3 linked regions of the Homo sapiens genome follow. The protein of the gene in region 3 purifies or fractionates together with the protein of the main gene of each other region. This does not show direct contact. Each region holds a gene or a part of one and is shown on either strand. Other genes may lie near its edges. The genes, in order: RCC2, GOLGA4 and GEMIN5.

The links.
Region 1: the proteins of GEMIN5 (region 3) and RCC2 fractionate together in Homo sapiens (co-fractionation; one large-scale study listed by BioGRID). This does not show direct contact.
Region 2: the proteins of GEMIN5 (region 3) and GOLGA4 purify together in Homo sapiens (affinity purification with mass spectrometry; one large-scale study listed by BioGRID and IntAct). This does not show direct contact.

The regions. Positions count from the first base shown.
Region 1 is NC_000001.11:17,422,623-17,426,274, forward strand, and holds part of RCC2 (protein RCC2), read right to left. Parts: intron 3,063-3,652; coding exon 2,919-3,062; intron 215-2,918; coding exon 83-214; intron 1-82. UniProt on the Homo sapiens protein: Multifunctional protein that may affect its functions by regulating the activity of small GTPases, such as RAC1 and RALA. Required for normal progress through the cell cycle, both during interphase and during mitosis.
Region 2 is NC_000003.12:37,358,136-37,361,787, reverse strand, and holds part of GOLGA4 (golgin subfamily A member 4), read right to left. Parts: intron 546-3,652; coding exon 516-545; 3' UTR 483-515; intron 1-482. UniProt on the Homo sapiens protein: Involved in vesicular trafficking at the Golgi apparatus level. May play a role in delivery of transport vesicles containing GPI-linked proteins from the trans-Golgi network through its interaction with MACF1. Involved in endosome-to-Golgi trafficking.
Region 3 is NC_000005.10:154,928,188-154,931,839, reverse strand, and holds part of GEMIN5 (gem-associated protein 5), read left to right. Parts: intron 1-262; coding exon 263-382; intron 383-3,180; coding exon 3,181-3,313; intron 3,314-3,652. UniProt on the Homo sapiens protein: The SMN complex catalyzes the assembly of small nuclear ribonucleoproteins (snRNPs), the building blocks of the spliceosome, and thereby plays an important role in the splicing of cellular pre-mRNAs.

The sequences.
Region 1 (3,652 bases), on a different chromosome or scaffold from region 3:
CACCACCCCACGCCCCATCCCCAAGGCAGACCACCTGGCCTCTTGCCAAACTGAGAGGAGACACCAGCAGCCACCTCCTTACCCGTCAAGGCCAAGGTGTGGTTCCGCCCACATGCTGCAGACACAATCACTTCGTGGCTAAGACCCTCGATGAGTCTAGGGGCTTCTACTCTCTTGGTGTCACCATGTCCCAGCTGCCCCTTCTCATTTCGACCTGCAGATCACATGAGAGAAAGTAGAAAAGAGAGAGGGTGGTCCAGGCGGCACCACCAGGAGAAGGCGAGTACAAACACACTCTCAAATGATGCCCATCTGTCTCTGGAAGGTACCCTCCAAATTCCCAACAGCCAAGATCCAGAGCAAAGAACGCCCCGGCCCTCTGCCCGCTGGAATGGCGCCTGCTGCAGCTCCCCGGACCTCCTTCCCTGGGGCAGCAGCGGGACCACCCGTGCACACCTCCCACGTCTCTGCTACAAAGGGAAATGAGAGGCTCAGTGTGGTAGGGACACCATGCACAGGCGGGCATGCTCGCAGAAACACGCCGTTCCCACTTAGAGTGCCTGCAAGACAACCACCCCGTCCCTACCCTCTGAGATGTATTTTAAGACAGCACCCCATTTTGACACCTGGCTCACCAGAGTTTAATCACTTTGGTGCTCTGGGCATCCACTGAGGACCATTTGGTGTCTGCCCAATATTTCTCTTCCTTTTTCTACCCTGTAAATGGTGCTCACATAACAGTGCCAATCCCACCCCTAGGGATCGCCCCTCAAGGACTCTCAGCCACAGGAACCCTGGTGACAAAGCACAGATCCACCCTCAACACAACACGCCCAGCCCCACCTCCAGGACTGCTGCAGGTGCGACCAAGGCCCTGTATCTGTGAATTCCAGCGGAAGGCAGGCCTGAGGGCCAACCCCTACCCCCAAGTCCTCTGCAGAACCAAATTCAACTCCAAACAGACGTGGAAGTTGGGTGGGCCAAAAGGAGGGCTGGGAGCCCCTACACCGCATCTAGGTTTCAACACAAACTACCAAGTTCCAAAACAAAAATTCAACCGGCCACTCTCGGATCCCTCCCGATAAGAGAAAAACCACACATGTAACCTGACGTGGGGAAACTGACGGAGATCTTACAGTGGTGAGAAGTCAGGGCAATTCTAGGGGGTTTTGCAACCTTCTCCAGCAATGAACTTTTCACCCTTAGGTTGTGATAAAGGCAGACAGCAGAGCCATTAAGATGAGTTCCAGCTGTCCTGGAGAAGGCTTGCAGGAGCAGCCTCTGACTACAGAAGGAATTGCGACGAAGGGAAACCAGCCTCTGACTCGCTCTAATTAAAGAACGGCGGGCTGAAGGGCCAGCACTGGCACTCGAGCAGGAGAGGCAGATACACCAGCTTCCAATGGGAGCTGCCCAAGTTCATGTGAAAGGCATGTGAATACAGAGCAACAAGTGCAAGTCTCAGTGGACTGAGATGCGGCAGGACAGGGTGAGCGGGCCACAGATGGAGACCCCACATGAGCAATGCGTCAGCCACCCTCCCGTGGTACTCTACTCACACCAGACGCCGCCCCCTGCCTTCTAGAGTGGCGAGCAGTGGGCCTGTGACACCTTCCAACCCTGTCCTCACCAACTGCACTGTCTGCTCGGGGATCACACGTCTTGATGGCGGGACATACATTGTCCCTGCCCACAGGGTCAGAACTGAGGGCGCTTTCAGAGCCACCACGCAAGTGAAGCTCAGCGAGAGATCAGAACTGAGGTATTTTAAGTTTGGAACACTGACATAAAAGGCTGTGTTCAGTGTTGGAACACAAAGTAGGAGGGGTGCTCTGGGGGAAGGGACACACATCTATGCCAACCGGGAGAAAACAAAAACTGTGGCAATGTCAGCATGTCATCAAGAGACTATAAAGTATAAATTTGGGCCAGACACACTTTAGCTTTTTTCAACAGAATTACAAAATTAGCCATGTGCAGGGAAGACAACAGATGTTAATATATTTGGACTTTGGTACAGCAGCTCATGAAATCACAAAAAACGGTTCAAACAGCCCAAAATAAAAATGCAGTCATATGGACTAAAAGCTAGCCAGAGGACCAGCGACAAAGGGTGGGGACAAACGCCAATATGCCCCGCTGGAGGCAGAGGCCGGGAGTCACCAAAAGGGCTGGGGATAAAATGAGCCTTAGCCCATACCCTATGATTGGAATGATCTGGAAGAGGACACGGGCAGGAATGGGCCGGCCGGCTGCAGAGGACAGTGCCGTGGACAGAGGCTAACAGAAGAACTGGAACCCATCCCGAGTGCCCAGGTGAGGAAAAACAGAAGGGAAAGCCGAACAACTCCAAAAAAGCAAACTGAAGTATCTGGGGAAATATCCTAAGAAGCAGACAACACGGACAGTGAGCTGCCAAGCCTGCAGACCAGACTTGGGCAGACCTCAGACACGAGGGCCATGGCGGCAGGGACGCAGCATCCTATGACATGAGGCGGGAGGTAGAAAAGCCAGTGGCATTTCAAGTGGCAGCAACAGAGGTCTCATGTCATATCGTGCCTCAAAGAGGAAGGAAACTGTCTGCTGGAAGGACAGCCTGCCTAACACACTCACACACCTCAGTATCAGAAAAGATCAAGCTTCGGGCAGAAGATTCAGGAAAATGTTCCTTGTGTAAACACAAGGAATCAAAGAAGTAGGGGCTGCGTATGGGCAAAAAATGTCAGGGGGGAAGGGGATCTGCATGTAGCGTGTAGACAAGAGACGAGCTGGGAATTAGGAAAAAAGACATGGGCTGTGAACGAAGGAGCCCAGCCTTATAAGACGCGAGTCTCTTTTCCAGGCAAACAGAAGAACGTGCTGTGTGGGGACAGCTGGTGACAGTGGTCCCCAGTGCCCAGCACCCGCACGGTACTCACCCCAGCTCCACAGCTTCCCTTCCGTGGTGATGAGGAGGCTGTGTGCAGCACACGAGCCCGAGACCACTGTCCGCACCCGGACCCCCGCCAGGCACCCATATCTGTGGGGCCCCCACAAATTCTGACCGAGATTGCGGTAAGCAGCTGCAGAGAGAATGAGAATGCAGATCAGACACCTGGGGTGGTGGGGTGACCTCCAAAATGTCACTGGCCACCAAGCAGCCACTTCCCGAGGGTACCAGGGACAGGTGTTCCTCGGGTGCCACCCTGCCTTGGCTGTTGGGAGGCTGCACAAGGATCGGGTTTTCACTTCGAATCTCTGCGATGCCTCTGAAGGCCCAAAAATCAAAATACCCAGAAGCTGGCACAGGCCTGGCGTCACCTGCCACCTTTACACCCATTCGGCCCCAGCCCCCTCTCTGGGTCCCACCTCTCACAGGGCTCAGCCCCACGTGTTCTGCCATTGAGCACGCCCACCCGCAAGTGCCCGGGACCTGGTGCGAGGTCTGTCCAGGAGGCAGGAGTGCTGGCTTTCCACAGCCGTCAGCTGAGGAAGAGGCTGACCCAGGAAACCCCGCTCACCCTGACAGTAACCTACCCCTCCTCCTCACTCCCTGCCGCCTGCCCCTCCTTTCCCAGGCTCTCCTGCCCTCCATCTCCGGCCTTCACCCTGGGCCAGAAGGCTCTTTCTGAGGGGTGACCCGAGTGTCCTGTCTTCATGTTCCCAGCAGCTC
Region 2 (3,652 bases), on a different chromosome or scaffold from region 3:
GCTATATTTTAAAATTGATCTTACTAGTTTTCATTATTTCTGACTGGCCTTGACTCAGGCTTTACAGGATTTTGAATTCTCACGGAATATACCACTTCATTTTTATCTAGAAAATGATTTTTCATTTCTCTCTCACAATCATAATTTCAAAGATCATTCTTGGAAAATTAAAAACAAAAGGGAAAATAAGTTACATAAATACTTTTTTGGATTCTTTAACAAAATTTCAAAGAGCAATTTTCAAACTTTCAATTACTCTTTAAAGAAATGAAATTTCCTAAAATTATATAACTCTTACTGGTGGTAGTAATTTTTAACTATTATCGATCCATATAACAGAATGAACAGAAAATACTTATATTAACCCATAGCATAATCATATATTTATTAAACAAGAGCAAAAGAATTCCAGCAAAATGGTTAGTATCAGGCAACACATTTGATTTTTGCACAAAAGACACAAGACATTGTTCTTCACTCACCACATGTTAACTAAGCACAGACTGATGGTTTACTCAGAAGATACCACTGCGAGGTGAAGTAAACTACAAAGCCAGGAAGAAAAAAAGCTTATTGGGTTAGTTTTAAGACTTAATATAACACATAGATTGTATGTGTATATGAAGTTCATAGGATTACAGACTGTACTTAAATTTTTCTCAAATCTCCCCAAATCAAGGGTGTACAGGCAAGGAATAAGGAATCTGTAATACCTCCCCCCATATCCTAGGTAAATATAATATTATGTAGCTGAGATTTTACTTGCAACTTTCATTTGAAGACTTAAACAACGTAATGAAAGGTGTACTGCATATTTTAAGTACATATTTACCAGCTGAATTACGGGGCAATTATTTGCTTTACAAAAGGATCTCTTTCATAATTCCATGAAAGTACACATTAAAATTTGATTTACATAATCTCAATTTACCCTAAAAAGTTTTCGGGAAAATGATGATGAATTTGAAGAGCCATGTGTCTATATGTTGAATTCTCATTCCTAATGTGTCAATTTGATCACTGAATAACTCTCTTGTAATTCAACAATGTATCAGAAATGGTTTCAGGAATGGTGACCCAAACTGAAATTTCAATTTAAGGAAACTCAATCTCAAATATAGTTTTTACTGTGACAAACCTTAAATAAATTCTATGCCCCATTTTAAGATGGTCATTGTCCAAAATCATTAATTACCTTCACGGTGATTTAAAATGGCAGCATTAAAAACAAAGATTGCTTATAAAATCTGAGTCTATTCTTGGATAGTGTGGCCAACCTCAGAAACATCATTTTATTTATCTTTCATATTTAAAGTTAGTAAAAAGCAGCAAAACCAAAAGACAAGCTAGAAAATAATATGTGCAACACACACAACACAATGAGGTTAATATCCTCTCTGGCAGAAGTATACAAAATCCATGTATATGGATGTTCCCTATGTCTATGCTTGTAAAGTACTGAAAATCTTGAAAACATAAGTAAATGGAATGAGGAGGAAACTGGTGAACTAAACTGTAGGACATCCATATAATCATACAATCAGCCATTGAAAAGAATGAGACCAATTTGTAATAAGGTGGAATAATATAAAAATATATTAAGTGAAAAAAGCAAGCCATTGCATACTCTCATTTTTATAAAATAAAATGAATGATAAAGGAGTAACTATAAATATGTAATTACATGGCTTAGAAAACATGGAGATATTCCCCAAACTGTTCACAGAGATGATACTGGCATAGCAGAAGTAGTCTGGAGGCTGAAGATCATGAGGGACTCCCTTTCTATGTTTCTGGCTTATAATATTTTTTCCAGTGATCACGTATTACCTTATTCTACCAACACCAGAATCAAAACCAATCTCAAGAAAACAAATATGTATTTGACATGTGCAATATTTTCTATAATGTGTCAGTTTTATTTGTATGTGTTTCCTGAACCCACCTTGCATGCATCTTCTGAGCCCATGCAGAGGGAAAGGGTAAACCTCGTGTGGGAATGGAAAACTTTTGTACCTAGCAATGCTGAAAAGTTCTGATTTTATTAATTCGGAGGAAATTTTGAAAATTCCAACAGGGGAAGAAAATGAGACGTTAAGAGAACACAAGACTGGTCCAGGGCAAGGACTGATGAAGAACTATATACACCACCAAGAATCAGTGTGAAAGCAAAGTTGAAGGAGAGTCAACAGAAGAGCAATTGAAAAAGATGACTAGAATGGACAGAGAACACAAACAAGCCAACCTTCTCCATCAAAGAGAAATTTTCTTTAATGGAGTCATCAAGAAAACAGTGATGTCCATTTATGTCATTACATTTTGCTAGCACTCTAAAGAGAAAAATGTCTAAGAAAACTTTTAAAGAGGGGTTTCCATATAACAAAGGAATCTCAATTCTGAGATGCTTGTTACCCAATTACAATAAACTTTCCTAATGAAATTATCTTAAATAATGTAATAATACTCTCATTTTAAAAAAAATCAGGGTGTACTTCTAGGGCAGTTTTATTCAATAAAAACACTAACAATTAGATGAGCCAAGAACTTATGTATTCACTCTTGCCCATATTGTGCTACTCGAATATCCAGTCTACTCTGGCCATCTAAGCTACCTAAACCATCATAAAATGAAGTAGCAAGGTATAGTAAACTAAAAATTGAGAGGAGGGAAAAAAAGCTGTTCTAGGAAAAACAGAGATATGTGCATTTGGTATGTGCATTTTGTTTTAACTTCTGCCTGCTGTTTAGAAGGCAATTCTTTTTCCTACTTGAAACAAATATAAAACAAGATTTTATACTTTGTGGGGAAAGAAACCTTAGAGATAGTATAATCCAACAATCTCATTTTACCAATGAGGGTCAAAAATATGAAAACAGTTTGCGCTAAGTTATACAGCAGTCAAACCATTGAGATCTAGGCTCTCATCCCAGCAATGTCGCATGTCGCTGGCACTCTAAGGTACCGAAGTTGGAGATGGGGGCATTTTGTGGGCTGGTATCACCGTGTGACTTGACCCTCCTACTGAGGTCTTTAATGGTTTTTCTTATACACATCAATGATTTACCTTTCCAGTCTCTTTTTCCAGAAAAGACTAGTTCTACACATTGCTAAAAGGAGGCTAAATAATTATCACCACCATCCCTACATTATCACTCAGCGCAGGCAACTGTACTCTGGTTCCTGGACAATCCTAACAAGATTATGTTAGTCTTGTGAAGAAAAGAGGCTCTGAGAATTGCCTGAGTTTCCACAGCAAGTCAACAAAGGACTAAGATTCCTTCCCTATACACCAAGACCCTCAAATAAACCAGACTGTAATTATGCTCTGTAATTTAACCTTACTTAACAGATAGTGATTTCTCATCTATAAAATCTACTCGAGACTAGGTTAAACTCTGAAAACAGTAATAACTTGTATCCTGTAATGAGGTTTTTTAAATAAAGAGTATAAAACTCACTGAAGAGAGAGAAGTATAGTAAAGATAAGATATATTGAAAAGTACCTCACCAGCAGTCATAGAAAGCTTTTGATTAGTGCTACAAAGTAAATGTATAATCATCATGGTCAAAAAGCAAAAATTTTAGAATGTATTCCTCTGATAATACCCAATAAATAATGTAAAAACTAACATGGGCTGCACGCTGTCAACA
Region 3 (3,652 bases):
TTTCTCCATGTTGGTCAGGCTGGTCTTGAACTCCCGACCTCAGGTGATCCACCTGCCTCAGCCTCCCAAAATGCTGGGATTACAGGCGTGAGCCACTGCACCAGGCCGAATTATATCATTTTAATTATACCTAAAACTTCAAATTTTATAGTTCAGACCTATGAAAGAGATAGCTAAGTTTTGGAAACTCTTGCAAACTAATTTTTTTATATTAGTGCGTGTTTAATGTAAATTAAAAACAAAATTGCCACCTATCTCATAGAAGAAGCTGAAATTACCAACGGGAATGCTGTAGCACAAGCTCCAGTAACAAAAGGTTGCTACTTAGCCACTGGAAGCAAAGATCAAACCATTCGAATCTGGAGCTGTTCTAGAGGCCGAGGTAAGATTGATCTTTCTTTTGTGATGTAACCTATGTTGATCTGGTGGAAGTAGAGGGTTTTCTGTTCTTATTGTCCTGAGGGTGTGTCATCTATTTGAGAGCAGTTCTTCACTTTTTGGTCTAGAATTCTGCTTCCTCATTTGAGCCTGGCCTAGACTCTCTATTCTCTCAACATCTGGCCTTAGAGATTAGTATTTCCCATGCATTCCAGGAGAAGACAAGGATCTCTTGCTTTATAGAAGGGTCAGTGTTTGGCATGGAGAGCAGAATATTTGTAATAAAAACAGGAATATTAGAACATGATATGGCCTAAGCCAGGAGAATGGAAAATATCTTAAGAGTTAGAGCTTTTAATGCACAAATGCAGAATAAATTACATACACCCAGCATAGAATTATGTGTAAAAGCTCATTTTATCCAAATTATAGAGCCCCTCAATCATTTAGCTTTCCCAAATGTCTCTTTGAACAGAACTTTTATCTTTAAGTTTAAAAATTGAGAGAAACTCTAGGCATAATGAATATTTATAGTATATCATAGAATATAACCTTTATAGTAAAAATCTTGTTTTTCTCTTTCTAGCGGGCTTCTCTTCTTTCTTCATTTTATTTTATTTTTTTTGGCAGTTTTTTAAGCTGTGGTGGAAAATATAACATTTGCCATCTTTATCACTTTTAAGTGTACATTTAAGTGGTATGAAGTACACTCTAAAGTTGTGCAACTGTCACAGCCACCCATCTCCAGAATTCTACTCTCCATTTCCCCCTCCCCCAGGCCCTGGCAACCATCATTCTGCTTTCAGCTCTATGATTTTGACTACTCTGAGTATTTCCTTTGAGTGAAGTTATACATATGATATGTCTTTTTGTGATTGGCTTATTTCACTTAGCATATATCCCCGAGGTTCATTGATGTTGGTACCGTATGTCAGCATATCCTTCCTTTCTAAGGCTGAATAATATTCCATTGTGTGTATGTCCCACATTTTACTTACCCACTCATCCACTTGTTATAAATAAAATTTCGGTGTGGCAAAAGAAATAGCACTCAAATATAAAACTTTCTTTTTAATTCTCAGCAAGGCAATGTACTTCTATAGAAGGGTGCGCCCTTACAGATGGAGCAATGGTGAGCGCACACTTGGACAACGGAGGGGAGGGGTTCTTATCCCTGACGCATGTGGCCCCTGCTGCTGTGTCGTTCCCCTATCAGCTAGGGTTAGACCGCACAGGCTAAACTAATTCTGATTCGCTGATTTAAAGAGAGTGCCGGGGTAAGTGGTTTGATGGGAGAAAATGGTTATGGCAGGAAAAATGGTTATGGCAGAGCAGGAAATCAGAATGAGTCAGGGTGGAGCAGGTAATCGGAATGAGTCAGGATGGAGCAGGTAATCGAAAAAGGTTGCTTTTACGAGGAAGTTAAGTTTAAAAACAGAAGCCAAATAATTGAACATACTGACATATTGATTCTTTGAAGAGAAATTTAGAACTCATATCTCACACACTGATGGACATTTGGGTTGCTTCCATGTTTTACTATTCTAAATAATATGCTATGAGCATGGATGTACTTTCTACTTTATTTGAAACCATGATAGTTTTATCATATTTGCCCAAATGCATGTAAAGCAAGTAGCACAGCACTTGGAATGTCATCCAGGCTTCATCAGTGGTAGGTAACTAATAGTATAATTTGGGAAGACAGAACTTTTTTAAGGTTTACAGGCTACTTCTTGGCATACTGCAGCTAAAACTCCAAGTGGGAACATAAGGCTGAGGATCCCTCCAGGAGGGTAACCTCTAGACTTAGAGGTGTCTGGTAAAATGGCCTTCAATTGTGGTTGTGCAGCAGAATCAGCTGGAGAGTCTTTGGAAAAATGTAGGTTCTTGTACCCCACCTCAGATCTACTGAGTCCGAATCTCTAGGAGTTAGGCCCTGGCGTATGTATTTTTTAAAGTTCCACCTGTGGTTCCGATGCACAATACAGCTTAAAAAACGGTGATTAGAAGCATGTCGGGTGGAGGTACTCCCCACCCACAGCACGTTCACTGCCAAATTTTTCTTTGTTGGATTTCTTGCCGACTAGAAATAGTAATCCCAACCTCTGTCCTTTTCACTTTGGAGTTATGTCACTGCAATACTTTTGGGTACACAACTCAGCTGTGTTACTAGCTGGGTTCTCAGTTTTACTTGGGAACTCATTTTCCCAGACGAAAAAATACTCTTTTTCTTTTGAGGCAGAGTCTCTCTCTGTCGCCCAGGCTGGAGTGCAGTGGCACGATCTCAGCTCACTGCAAGCTCCACCTCCTGGGTTCATGCCATTCTCCTGCCTCAGCCTCCCGAGTAGCTGGGACTACAGGTGCCTGCCACCACGCCCGGCTAATTTTTTTGTATTTTTAGTAGAGACAGGGTTTCACCATGTTAGCCAGGATGGTCTCGATCTCCTGACCTCGTGATCCTCCCGCCTCGGCCTCTCAAAGTGCTGGGATTACAGGCATGAGCCACCGCGCCCGGCCAAAAAAAAAAAATACTCTTAATACGTTGAGGTTGTCAAGATAGCCTGTCGAAGCTTGTTTGACCTAAATGTAGCTAGACTAGTATTAACCAGTATTTATAGTGATTAAAATTATAACCATAATAATGGTTAAAATTGTAACCATTGGAAAATGAGATCTGAATTCTAAGTAGCCAAACTAACAAGCTTTTACAGCGCAGACTGTGTGTTATGAACCACCGGTGACTTCATGCATGTAGTTTCACTGTCTTGAGTGCCCACTGGCCTTCTTTTTAATCTGCAGGGGTGATGATTTTGAAATTGCCCTTTCTGAAGAGAAGAGGAGGGGGTATAGACCCAACTGTTAAAGAGCGCCTTTGGTTGACACTCCATTGGCCCAGCAATCAACCAACACAGCTGGTATCTAGCTGTTTTGGGTAAGTCTTTTTTGGTCATGCTTTCTCAGATATATTTTGTTTTTCTATTTGGCCTCAAGTCCTCCTAGGATGGAGAAAGTAATGGCCAAGGCTTGTATTATGATGGGCCATTTGAAATGGAAAAATTATGAGACTAATGCCTGTGCTATCTACTAACAGAGCTGTAAAAAGATCACATAAGTATAGTCCGGCAGTTAGGAATATGGACTCTGAAGTCAGAACTAAATTTCAGAATCACTTTGTCACTTACTGCCTTGTATTCCTGAGCAAGACCCTTTACTTTTCTGAGCTTCAGTCACTTCAAGTGTAGAAAGGGGAGATGGTTATAATATTTTCTCT